Homo sapiens: one gene and its partners. The protein of the gene in region 2 purifies or fractionates together with the protein of the main gene of each other region. This does not show direct contact. Each region holds a gene or a part of one and is shown on either strand. Other genes may lie near its edges. The genes, in order: LACC1, CLSPN and POLD1.

The links.
Region 1: the proteins of CLSPN (region 2) and LACC1 purify together in Homo sapiens (pull-down; one large-scale study listed by IntAct). This does not show direct contact.
Region 3: the proteins of CLSPN (region 2) and POLD1 purify together in Homo sapiens (affinity purification with western blotting, with the first as the bait; one study listed by BioGRID). This does not show direct contact.

The regions. Positions count from the first base shown.
Region 1 is NC_000013.11:43,886,350-43,890,000, reverse strand, and holds part of LACC1 (purine nucleoside phosphorylase LACC1), read right to left. Parts: exon of another isoform or gene 3,211-3,651; intron 1,245-3,210; coding exon 1,019-1,244; intron 1-1,018. UniProt on the Homo sapiens protein: Purine nucleoside enzyme that catalyzes the phosphorolysis of adenosine, guanosine and inosine nucleosides, yielding D-ribose 1-phosphate and the respective free bases, adenine, guanine and hypoxanthine.
Region 2 is NC_000001.11:35,735,479-35,739,129, reverse strand, and holds part of CLSPN (claspin), read left to right. Parts: intron 1-547; coding exon 548-675; intron 676-1,032; coding exon 1,033-1,138; intron 1,139-1,708; coding exon 1,709-1,791; intron 1,792-2,054; coding exon 2,055-2,216; intron 2,217-2,523; coding exon 2,524-2,634; 3' UTR 2,635-3,651.
Region 3 is NC_000019.10:50,401,263-50,404,913, forward strand, and holds part of POLD1 (DNA polymerase delta catalytic subunit), read left to right. Parts: intron 1-515; coding exon 516-662; intron 663-736; coding exon 737-862; intron 863-942; coding exon 943-1,111; intron 1,112-1,191; coding exon 1,192-1,273; intron 1,274-1,349; coding exon 1,350-1,479; intron 1,480-1,790; coding exon 1,791-1,957; intron 1,958-2,230; coding exon 2,231-2,335; intron 2,336-3,651. UniProt on the Homo sapiens protein: As the catalytic component of the trimeric (Pol-delta3 complex) and tetrameric DNA polymerase delta complexes (Pol-delta4 complex), plays a crucial role in high fidelity genome replication, including in lagging strand synthesis, and repair.

The DNA of each region.
Region 1 (3,651 bases), on a different chromosome or scaffold from region 2:
GAACAATGTATATTGTTATTCACTTACAGAACATGGACTAGTCAGGGAAAAAAATGCTACACTTTATCAGCATTTATCACCTAAGTTCATATATGCACAGTACAACCTTCCATATTGTCTTATAGACATAATCTAGGTACAGAATTTTATAATCAAAATCAAGTGCTTATTTAAGAAGAAATGTCTACAAAAGTTACCAGGATATCAGGCAAAATTCACCTGGCTCAGCCAGAGTATGCTTTTTAGTCATCTGGCCCTTCATCTCCTTTCCTTCTATTAGCCAGATTTTTCTCAGAAAACTTGCTTCTCCATGAACACTTTATGATATGAAATATGACTACAAGTTAGTGATACTTGATTTTAAAAGTCACATTTAAGAATCAATTTCAAACTTTTCCACATCTGTACTAAATGAGGCAGACTCTGGGTAAAGTTTTGGCGACTGGAATAGAAACATGATTTAAAACATACATTAATTTGCCTTTGTAGTAATGACAAATAATTTTCACCAGTTATTAATAACAAAACCTTGTAAATTAAAAGATGCGAAGAACTGTAAAAAACTTAAAAGTAAAAAACCGTGTATTTATATTATCTAATATTTTTTCTAAAAAACATATTCCTCTAGTTAATTAGATAATAAGAATAATTTTAAAATATCAGCTTCCTGATAGTTCATTACATTTAGGAGAATTTAGCTGAGGAATGGCTGTGAAGTAAAGTACACGCCAACTTTTCTATATGAAGTTTAAGTAGATCTCTTAAAATTAAATGCCAAATATTTCTTCCTTCACTTTTAAATCAATGAAAGATACCAGACAGGAAAATTTCTGTTATTCAAACTCAAATGAAAACAGATTTCATATTTAAAATGAGTGTTTGTGTACATGTGCATGTCAGCTGCTTAAATAACCACCACCTAAATTCTTCTTAGAGTTATTAATTGTTCTCCAAAATAAATTTCATTTTAGAACAATCAGAAATAATCAAACTTGCAGTTGAATGAAATCAGACATACCTTGTGGCTTTACGGATGTCGATACAGGGATTTGGTGAATCAAATAGTTGTACACATGCAGGATGAAGATTATGAAATGCCTCTGCTGATTCCCTTGGAAGAGTAAAACAGCAAGGTCCTACTGAAGGTCCAAGTACAACAACAATGTCTTCCAAACTGCAGCCATATTCTGCTATCATAGCATTCACTGTAGCCATAGCAACACCCAACAAAGTACCTTTCCAACCTGGTAAATAGGAATAAAAAGAGATAAGAGAAGTCAAAACATAAAAAATTTCACCTGAATTTATGTCTAAGTTAAAAGTGAGCAGATTTAGTTTGTATATTTTTCAAAGTCCAGAAATAATAAATTACATTATCATGTGGTTTTTAAATGAGCCATACTACACAAAGCACCTGACACAGAAGAGACATGTAATGGGAGTTTTCTTCATCTTCCATTTAAAGATGCTCTATACTTTTAGTTTCCACTGAGATCATAGCTTCTTAGTCTTCTATTTTTCACATTTTAAAAGATTGTGGTTAAAAACCCACAAAATTTACTATTATAACCACAAAAAAATACTATTCTAAGTATACAGTTCAGTAGTGTTGAACTCACATTGTTGTATAACCAATCTCCAGAATTTTTTCATTTGATAAAATGGAAACTCTACAACTATTAACAATAACTCCTTGTTTCTTCCTTTTACCAGCCCCTGGCAATCACCATTCTTCTTCCAGTTCCTGTACATTTGATTACTGTAGGTATATCATATAAGTGAAATCAATACAGTATTTATCTTTTTGTGACTGACTGATTTCACTTAGCATAATGTCCTTAAGGTTCATCTATATTGTAGTATGTGTCAGAATATCCTGCCTTTTTAAAGCTAAATAATATTCCATTGTATGCACACACATTTTGCTTATCCATTCATCTACCAATGTACCTTAGATTGCTTTCACCTTTTGGCTATTGCGAATAATCGTGTTATCAACATTGGTGTGCAAATATCTCTTTGAGTTCCTGATTTCAGTTATTTTGGATATACTTCCAGAAGAGGAATTTCTGGATTATATGGTAATCTATTTATAATTTTTTGAGAAATTGCCATACTGTTTTCTATAGTGGCTACACAATTTCACATTCCCACCACCAGTGCACCAGGATTTCAACTTCTCCATATCCTCAACAACACTTATTTTCTGAGGTTTTAAAATATTAGCCATCCTAATGGATGTGGGGTGATATTTCACTGTGGTTTTGATTTGCGTTTCTCTAACTTCTAATCCATGAACACAGAATTTCTCTGCATTTATTTGTGTCTTCTTTAATGTCCTTCAGCAATGTTTTGCAGTTTTCATCTCTCCCTTTTTACAAAAATATATCTATTATATTTCAATTAACAGCCTCTTTTTACTCCCTTCCCACTTGCCCAGACTATCGTTCCCTTGCCATCTTTGTCTTATCTGCCTTGCATCTTACAGTGTTCTAAGATAAAACCATCTTCTTTACTTATGCTACCTTCTTGTTGCCAAAGACAGAAAGCTAAGAATATTGCATTTTTCCTTTATTCCCTATATCTGGGTTTGATTCAGCTGATATGGTTGGCCAATAATGAGTACCCTTACACCTTCCTTAAGCACTCCATACTCATACCCTTCAAAAGGTAGGCACTCAGGTGAAGGGATCAATTTTTACAGATAAAAGGAGATGATGAAAGCAAGAAGGACTTAGGTGACAGGTTCAGCCTCTACAGGTAACCCACTGAATATGTGGTTATGGGAAGTACAGAATGAAGACATCAAGTTTCTATCTGTAAGTGGGTAGGATATCAATAATTAAAACAGGAAACCTAACTGGCAGAGAAGACTTTAGGAAAAAAATGTTGAGTTTTTGACATAATGATTTTCAGGCACCTAGGAAGATGCAGACAGTGATGTTCAAAGGGAAGCAACTAGATATAGGCATTTTGAGTTAAAGAGAGAAACTGTCAGGGCTTTTCTACAGATGAGAGTAGCTCTCTTCCTCAGTGAGCCTCCTTAGTTATCCTCTCACTTGTAGTTCATCCACCTCCTTTCTATTTGATTTTTCTATGCCTATCTATATATACATATCTAGTTAAAAGATCTTTATTAAATTAGTCCCATAGAAGAATTTTATTCTTTTTGATATCTGATAAAAGTAGTATACAATGTAGCTAATTATATTATATTTTAAAGTTAATTTATTTTTATTCTTCCAACTTTTTAGGTTCGGGGTACATATATGCAGGTTTGTTACATGGGTAAATTGCATGTCACTGGGGTTTCGTGTACAAACGATTTCATCACCCAAGTAGTGGACATAGTACCGAACAGACAGTTCTTCAGTCGTCACCCTCCTCCCACCCACCACCCTTAAGTAAGCCCCCATGTCCATTGTCCCTTTTTTTGTGTCCATGTGTACTCAATGTGTAGCTCCCACTTAAAGGATACATATGGTATCTGATTTTCTGTTCCTGCATTAATTCATTTAGGATGGCTTCCAGCTGCATCTATGTTGCTGTAAGGATATGATTTCATTCTTTTTTATGGCTTTATAGTATTCCATTATGTATATGTACCATATTTTCTTTATCCAGTCCACCACTGATGGGCATCTAAGTTGA
Region 2 (3,651 bases):
TGGTTGTTGTCTTTAAAAGCAATCAGTTACGGGCTGAGCATGGTGGCTCACGCCTGTAATCCCAACACTTTGGGAGGCAGAGGCAGGTGGATCACAAGGTCAGGAGTTCAGGACCAGCCTGAACAACATGGTGAAACCCCGTCCCTACTAAAAGTTCAAAAATTAGCAGGCTGTGATGGCACGCGCCTGTAATCCCAGCTACTCAGGAGGCTGAGGCAGGAGAATTGCGTGAACCCGGGAGACGGAGGTTGCAGTGAGCAGAGATCATGCCATTGCACTCCAGCCTGGGCGACAGAGCGAGACTCCATCTCAAAAAAAAAAAAAAAAAAGCAAACAGTTACAATGCATATTTGTCGAGTTTCAGATGGCAAATGGCAAGCAAAACTATAACAGGCTATGTGAAGACCTAGTTGTAACTGTTTTCTGTTAATGGATGGGAAAAGTTTACATCATTATATAGTAAATGATAAGGGTTTATTTTTTGTCTGTCCAAGCACCCTCTCCTGTGAGGACTGCCGAATGCTGATTACCTTCACTCTTTGTTTAGATGATGCTTCCCAGATGGACTTGTTCCACAGAGACTCTGATGATGATCAGACTGAAGAACAGCTTGATGAGTCAGAAGCCAGGTGGAGGAAGGAGCGAATTGAACGAGAGCAGTGGCTTCGGGACATGGTAGGAGTTCACCTACTCTGACCCTAGTTTATGAGACTGTCCCTTAGCTTGTCATGATAGTTTCAAAATCTTAGCTTGTCATGATAGTTTCAAAATCTTAGGCAACATATTGCTATCTCTTTTAATCCTTGAGCTATCTTTTGTGTTTTGAGAAGGCTATACCATAGACAGTTCTCTTCATGTTTGTCTAAGATTAATTTTTTTTTGTCTAAAGCAGCAAAGGCTGCAAAAAGGAAAACAAATACCCCAGGAACTCTAGTTTCACAATCCAGGCCATGCTAACTATTTAGGAAGGTTATAGACTTTTAATGCTGTATATATATATATATATATATATATATTTTTTTTTTTTTTCAGGCACAGCAGGGGAAAATTACAGCTGAAGAAGAAGAAGAAATTGGGGAGGACAGTCAGTTTATGATACTGGCCAAGAAAGTTACAGCCAAAGCACTGCAGAAGAATGGTGAGCTCTTGTTTCTCCTTAGGGTCTAGCCCCCTGGATTGTTAGTGGTAGAGCTTTGGAGGTGACTCTAACCTTCAGGAGCTGTTGCAGCTTAATCATAAGCTTGTGTCTAATACTGTCTTAAAGAGGCTTCACAGAGGTGGTGGGAGACAGTGTACTTAGATCTTAGACTATTGGGCAGTAGAGACTGTATTCATGAGTATATGTGGCTGGTTTTACTTTATGTTCTAAGGCTCAGAGTAGTTAATTCTGGCTTTCTCTAGTTGCCCAGGATTGTATACCTAAGTGTTAGAGGTAGGATTTGAATCCAGGAATATTTAACTCCAGAAATGAAGCTCTTCACTATTCCCTACACTGACCACTTCTGTTTTTCTTAAATGATTACTGTTCAACTTAGTTGTGTCTCTTCTTGGAGCCAATTATTATAGTTTGAAAGTCACCATTATATAGAACAGAGTTCCCATGGCTTTAGCATATTGATTTAGTTACAAGATTTCTTAGCTTGTTTAGATTTAAAAGTAATTCTAATCAGCTTTTCCCAGAATAGGCCTCTCTGTCTTTTCTTTCCAGCCAGTCGCCCTATGGTTATTCAGGAATCAAAGTCTTTGCTCAGAAATCCTTTTGAAGCCATCAGACCAGGAAGTGCTCAACAGGTTGGTTGGGAACCTTGTTAATCTGACATCATAGTCTACAGGTTATAAAGGCCCAGGTCCAGCTTAGAGAATAGTCTCTGTCATTAGAGGAAGGAGGTGGCTGCAGGGAAAAAGTTAATGTCAAAGGAGTCTGCTATTTCTTTTCTATTTGAATAGGGTAGGCATATGTACCCTCAATATCTAGGGGGAAGCAGGGAGGGAAGGACTTTTCATTCTTTAGTTGGCACTTGGGATTTGATACCAGATGACTCTTCTTTCCTCAGGTGAAGACAGGCTCACTGCTAAACCAGCCCAAAGCTGTGCTTCAGAAACTGGCTGCTCTCTCTGACCATAACCCCAGTGCTCCTCGAAATTCAAGAAACTTTGTCTTTCATACACTTTCTCCTGTCAAGGCTGAGGCGGCAAAGGAATCGTCTAAGTCTCAGGTATGGAATTTGAGAACTAATATGGTGGCTTCCCAAACCAGAATTTATTCATTTATTTAAATTTAAAAACAAAAATTCTGGCTTAACCTCTATGCTGCAATGTTGAAATCTTGCACTCCCCGATAAGGTACAAGAGAATTGCTACCCCAGTCGGTAATCAACTTTTAAACTTGCCGAGAAAGTTTATCTTTCTTTCTTTTTTTCTGTTGTTAATCATCCACAATTTATGAGTTGCTTGAGAGCTAATTGAAGGTAAATACTTGTATGAAGGTCTTTAGCTGGCCCTGACTCCCTCTCTGCTCTCTAGGTAAAGAAAAGGGGTCCATCTTTCATGACTTCTCCTTCACCTAAGCACCTCAAAACAGATGATAGCACTTCAGGATTGACGCGAAGCATCTTCAAATATTTGGAGAGCTAACACCATCAAAGGTGCCAAAATCTACATTGAGACTGCTTTGAGAAGTTTCTAGCACTGAAAGTTGGAATTGACACTCCAGCCAATGATCCTTCCTTCTTTCATAATCAATGCAATAAGATTGCAGACAGAAATTCCAGTGATTTCTACTGCACAGCTCTGGACATCTCTTTTCCTAGTATTATTCCCTGAATTGGCCACTGATTTCAATTCTGCAGTATTTACAACATCAACAACTCATGGAATACTTGGGTGAGGTTTCCTTTTTTTTTTTTTTTTTAAGATGGGAGTCTCACTCTGTTGCCCAGCTTGGAGTGCAGTGGCGTGATCTCGGCTCACCACAATCTCTGCCTCCCAGGTTCAAGCGATTCTCCTCCTTCAGCCTCCCGAGTAGCTGGGATTACAGGCATGTGCCAATACGCCCAGCTAATTTTTGTATTTTTAGTAGAGACGGGGTTTCACCATGTTGGCCAGGCTGGTCTTGAACTCCTGACCTCAAATGATCCATCCACCTCGGCCCCACAAAGTGCTGGTCACATGCATGAGTCACTGCACCTGGCCTTGGGTTAGGTTTCACTTCCTCCATTAGACATTTGACATTTTATTGTAGCAGCTTTCTGGGTTAATATCTCTTTGTGATTGATAGAAGTGGTTGGAAGAGGAAGAGTAGGGAAAAGTGTGACATTACAGATTAAACAGTGAAAATCAGTACCATAATGACTCCTTTACACCCATGAGATACGTACCATGATGACCAGGGCTCGGTGAAAGAAAGATTTCTTTTTTTTTTTTTGAGATAGTCTCACTTTGTTGCCCAGTCTGGAGTGCAGTGGCGCAATCTCGGCTCACGGCAACCTCTGCCTCCCGGGTTCAAGTGATTCTCCTGTCTCAGCCTCCCAAGTAGCTGGGACTACAGGTGCATGCCACCACACCTGGCTAATTTTTGTATTTTTAGTGGAGACAGGGAGTCACCATGTTGGCCAGGCTGGTCTCGATCTCCTGACCTCAAGTGATCCAGCT
Region 3 (3,651 bases), on a different chromosome or scaffold from region 2:
TTATGTATTAATTTATGTATAACATATATTATATATTAATATATTTTGTAGAGACAAATATATTTATTTGTACATATAATATGTGTGTGTATTTGTGTATATGTGTATATATATATATATATATATATATTTTTTTTTTTTTTTTTTTTTTTTCTTTTTTTTGAGACTGGGTCTCGCTCTTTTGCCCAGGCTGGTCTCAAAGTCCTGGGCTCTAGCGATCCTCCCGCCTTGGCCTCACAAAGCACTGGAATCACAGGTGTGAGTCACTGTGCACGGCCAGTTGTTTTTATCTTGTAATAAAAAAGAAGGGCCTCCCTGTAGTTGTGCTGTGGAGAATGGATCCTGGGGGATGAGGCTGGAGATGGGAACCAGGGGGGAGGCTGAAATGGACACAGGGAACGGTACAGGGGCAGGAGTGCCCCAGGCTGCAGGCCCCAAGGTATTTCGAGGCTGTGGAGACACACCTTGGAGGACCCTGAGAGGCATGGCCGCTGTCTTACCCTGTGACCCCACAGGCCCAGCGCAGCCTGTGCCTGGGGGGCCCCCACCATCCCGCGGCTCCGTGCCTGTGCTCCGCGCCTTCGGGGTCACCGATGAGGGGTTCTCTGTCTGCTGCCACATCCACGGCTTCGCTCCCTACTTCTACACCCCAGCGCCCCCTGGTGAGTGGCCCCTACCCAGCCCCTCCCTGAGCCACTGGAGCCCCCTGCACCTCTGATCATCCCTCCCACACCAGGTTTCGGGCCCGAGCACATGGGTGACCTGCAACGGGAGCTGAACTTGGCCATCAGCCGGGACAGTCGCGGGGGGAGGGAGCTGACTGGGCCGGCCGTGCTGGCTGTGGAACTGTGCTCCCGAGAGAGTGAGTGCTCCCCCAGGATCAGCGGGTTGGAGGGTCCCCTCGGGAGGCCATTGGCTGGTCCCAGCTTCTTCCATCCACAGGCATGTTTGGGTACCACGGGCACGGCCCCTCCCCGTTCCTGCGCATCACCGTGGCGCTGCCGCGCCTCGTGGCCCCGGCCCGCCGTCTCCTGGAACAGGGCATCCGTGTGGCAGGCCTGGGCACGCCCAGCTTCGCGCCCTACGAGGCCAACGTCGACTTTGAGATCCGGTACGGCCTCTGCCTCACTTCTCCGGCCTCTATCCCCACCCTCGGGCAGCCCCTGTCCACTGACCCCCAGCCCCCTCCAGGTTCATGGTGGACACGGACATCGTCGGCTGCAACTGGCTGGAGCTCCCAGCTGGGAAATACGCCCTGAGGCTGAAGGAGAAGGTGCAGGGCTTCCCAGGGCAGGGCTGGGTGGGGAGCTGGTACCCTGCTGCCACCGCTGACCCACCCATGCCCACAGGCTACGCAGTGCCAGCTGGAGGCGGACGTGCTGTGGTCTGACGTGGTCAGTCACCCACCGGAAGGGCCATGGCAGCGCATTGCGCCCTTGCGCGTGCTCAGCTTCGATATCGAGTGCGCCGGCCGCAAAGGTCTGTCCCCGGGCCCGGGCTCCTGCCCGCCTCATTGATGTGCCAAGTCGGGGGTCGGAAAGGCAGGTCCGGTGGAGGGAATGGCAAGCATGAAGGTGCCGGGGCAGGAGCACCCCAGCCCATGTGGCCAGATGGAGTGAGCACAGAGGGTGTGGAGATGGCCTGGAGGTGAGAGCAGAGCAGGAGCCAGGGTGAGCCACGTAGGGCCGGCAGGCAGCGGGGACAGCCCCGGGGAGATGGCAGGTGCAGCCTCCCTGCTGTGTTGGGAGTGAGGGGCAGGAGTCAGGCCCCTGCATCCTCCTGCCTCGCAGGCATCTTCCCTGAGCCTGAGCGGGACCCTGTCATCCAGATCTGCTCGCTGGGCCTGCGCTGGGGGGAGCCGGAGCCCTTCCTACGCCTGGCGCTCACCCTGCGGCCCTGTGCCCCCATCCTGGGTGCCAAGGTGCAGAGCTACGAGAAGGAGGAGGACCTGCTGCAGGTAGCTCTCGCTCCACGCCCCACACCATTTCCCGGGGTCCCCGCCAGCCTCCGCGTCCTGAGCCATCAGCTCCTGGGTGCTGCGACGCCCATGTCTGTGGGTCTGGGTGGGTGTCTGTGGGTCTGGGTGGGCCCCTGTGCAATTAGGCTTGAGCACTTCCCCTCTGGGTTCTGCAGGATTTTCAGGGGTGGCTGGGGTTCTAGAACATTCTGGAAGTAGGGGAATCCGAGGCAGGGCAACCACCAGGGTGACCCAATGTGCTCCCACCCCCAGGCCTGGTCCACCTTCATCCGTATCATGGACCCCGACGTGATCACCGGTTACAACATCCAGAACTTCGACCTTCCGTACCTCATCTCTCGGGCCCAGACCCTCAAGGTGAGGGCTGGGCAGGTGGGAGGCTTCTCTCAGATGCCCCAGGTGTGGCCTCCGGGCCCTGGGCCTCCTTCCCACTCCCTCTCCACATGGCTTGGTGCATCTTGCTCTGTGTGCCTCAGCCGATTGCCTGCAGGGGCAGCCTAGGCCTGGTCCTGCCCTGCTCCAAGTCGAAAAAGTTACTGTGGCTTTTATCAGAGGCAAGGAGGGCGTTACGGTGGAGTAAGAGAAGGCTGTGCATTCAAGGTCGGCCTGAAGCTTGCAGGGGTTCAACAAGCCATGAAGCAGCCACTGAATCCCAGTCTTCCTTTAGGTTATATCAGCATAAGGAAAAGAATCATAATGGAGGAGGAGGGGGGAGTGTGTTGACTGATGGGGCAAATTCCGGATGCTTCTTGAGTCTGCATGTGTGTAAGGGTGGATTCCTCTGCCCGAGTTGCTGTAACAAAGAGCCACAGACCAGGTGGCTGAAAACAGCAAAAAGTCATTGTCTCACCGTCCTGAAGGCTGGAAAGTCCATGACCAAAGTGTCAGCGGGCCTGCTTCCTTCGGGGGCTGCAAGGGAGGACTGGTTCACGGCCTCTCTCCTTGGCTTGCAGACGGCCATCATCCCCCTGTGCCTCTTCACACCGTCTTCTCTCTGTGCGTGTCTGTTTCCACATGTCCTCCCTTTTTTTTTTTTTTCCAAGACAAAGTCTCGCTCTGTCGCCCAGGCTGGAGTGCAGTGGCGCAATCTTGGCTCACTGCAAACTCCGCCTCCCAGGTTCATGCCATTCTCCTGCCTCAGCCTCCCAAGTAGCTGGGACTACAGGCGCCCGCCACCACGCCTGGCTAATTTTTTGTGTTTTTAGTAGAGACGGGGTTTCACTGTGTTAGCGAGGATGGTCTTGATCTCCTGACCTTGTGATCCGTCTGCCTCGGCCTCCCAAAGTGTTGGGATTATAGGCGTGAGCTACTGCACCCAACCCCTTTTCTCTTTCTTTTTTTTTTTTTTTTTTTTTTGAGACAGAGTCTCGCTGTGTCGCCCAGGCTGGAGTGCGATGGCACGATCGAGGCTCACTGCAACCTCCACCTCCCAGGTTCAAGCGATTCTCCTGCCTCAGCCTCCCAAGTAGCTGGGATTACAGGCGTGAGCCACCACGCCCCGCAAATTTTTGCTTTTTTGTTATTGTTTCTTGAGATGGAATTTCGCTCTTGTTGCCCAGGCTGGAGTGCAATGGCACGATCTTGGCTCACCACAACCTCCGCCTCCCAGGGGGCGCTGGGGTGTAGAAGTGATTCTCCTGCCTCAGCCTCCCAAGTAGCTGGGATTATAGGCA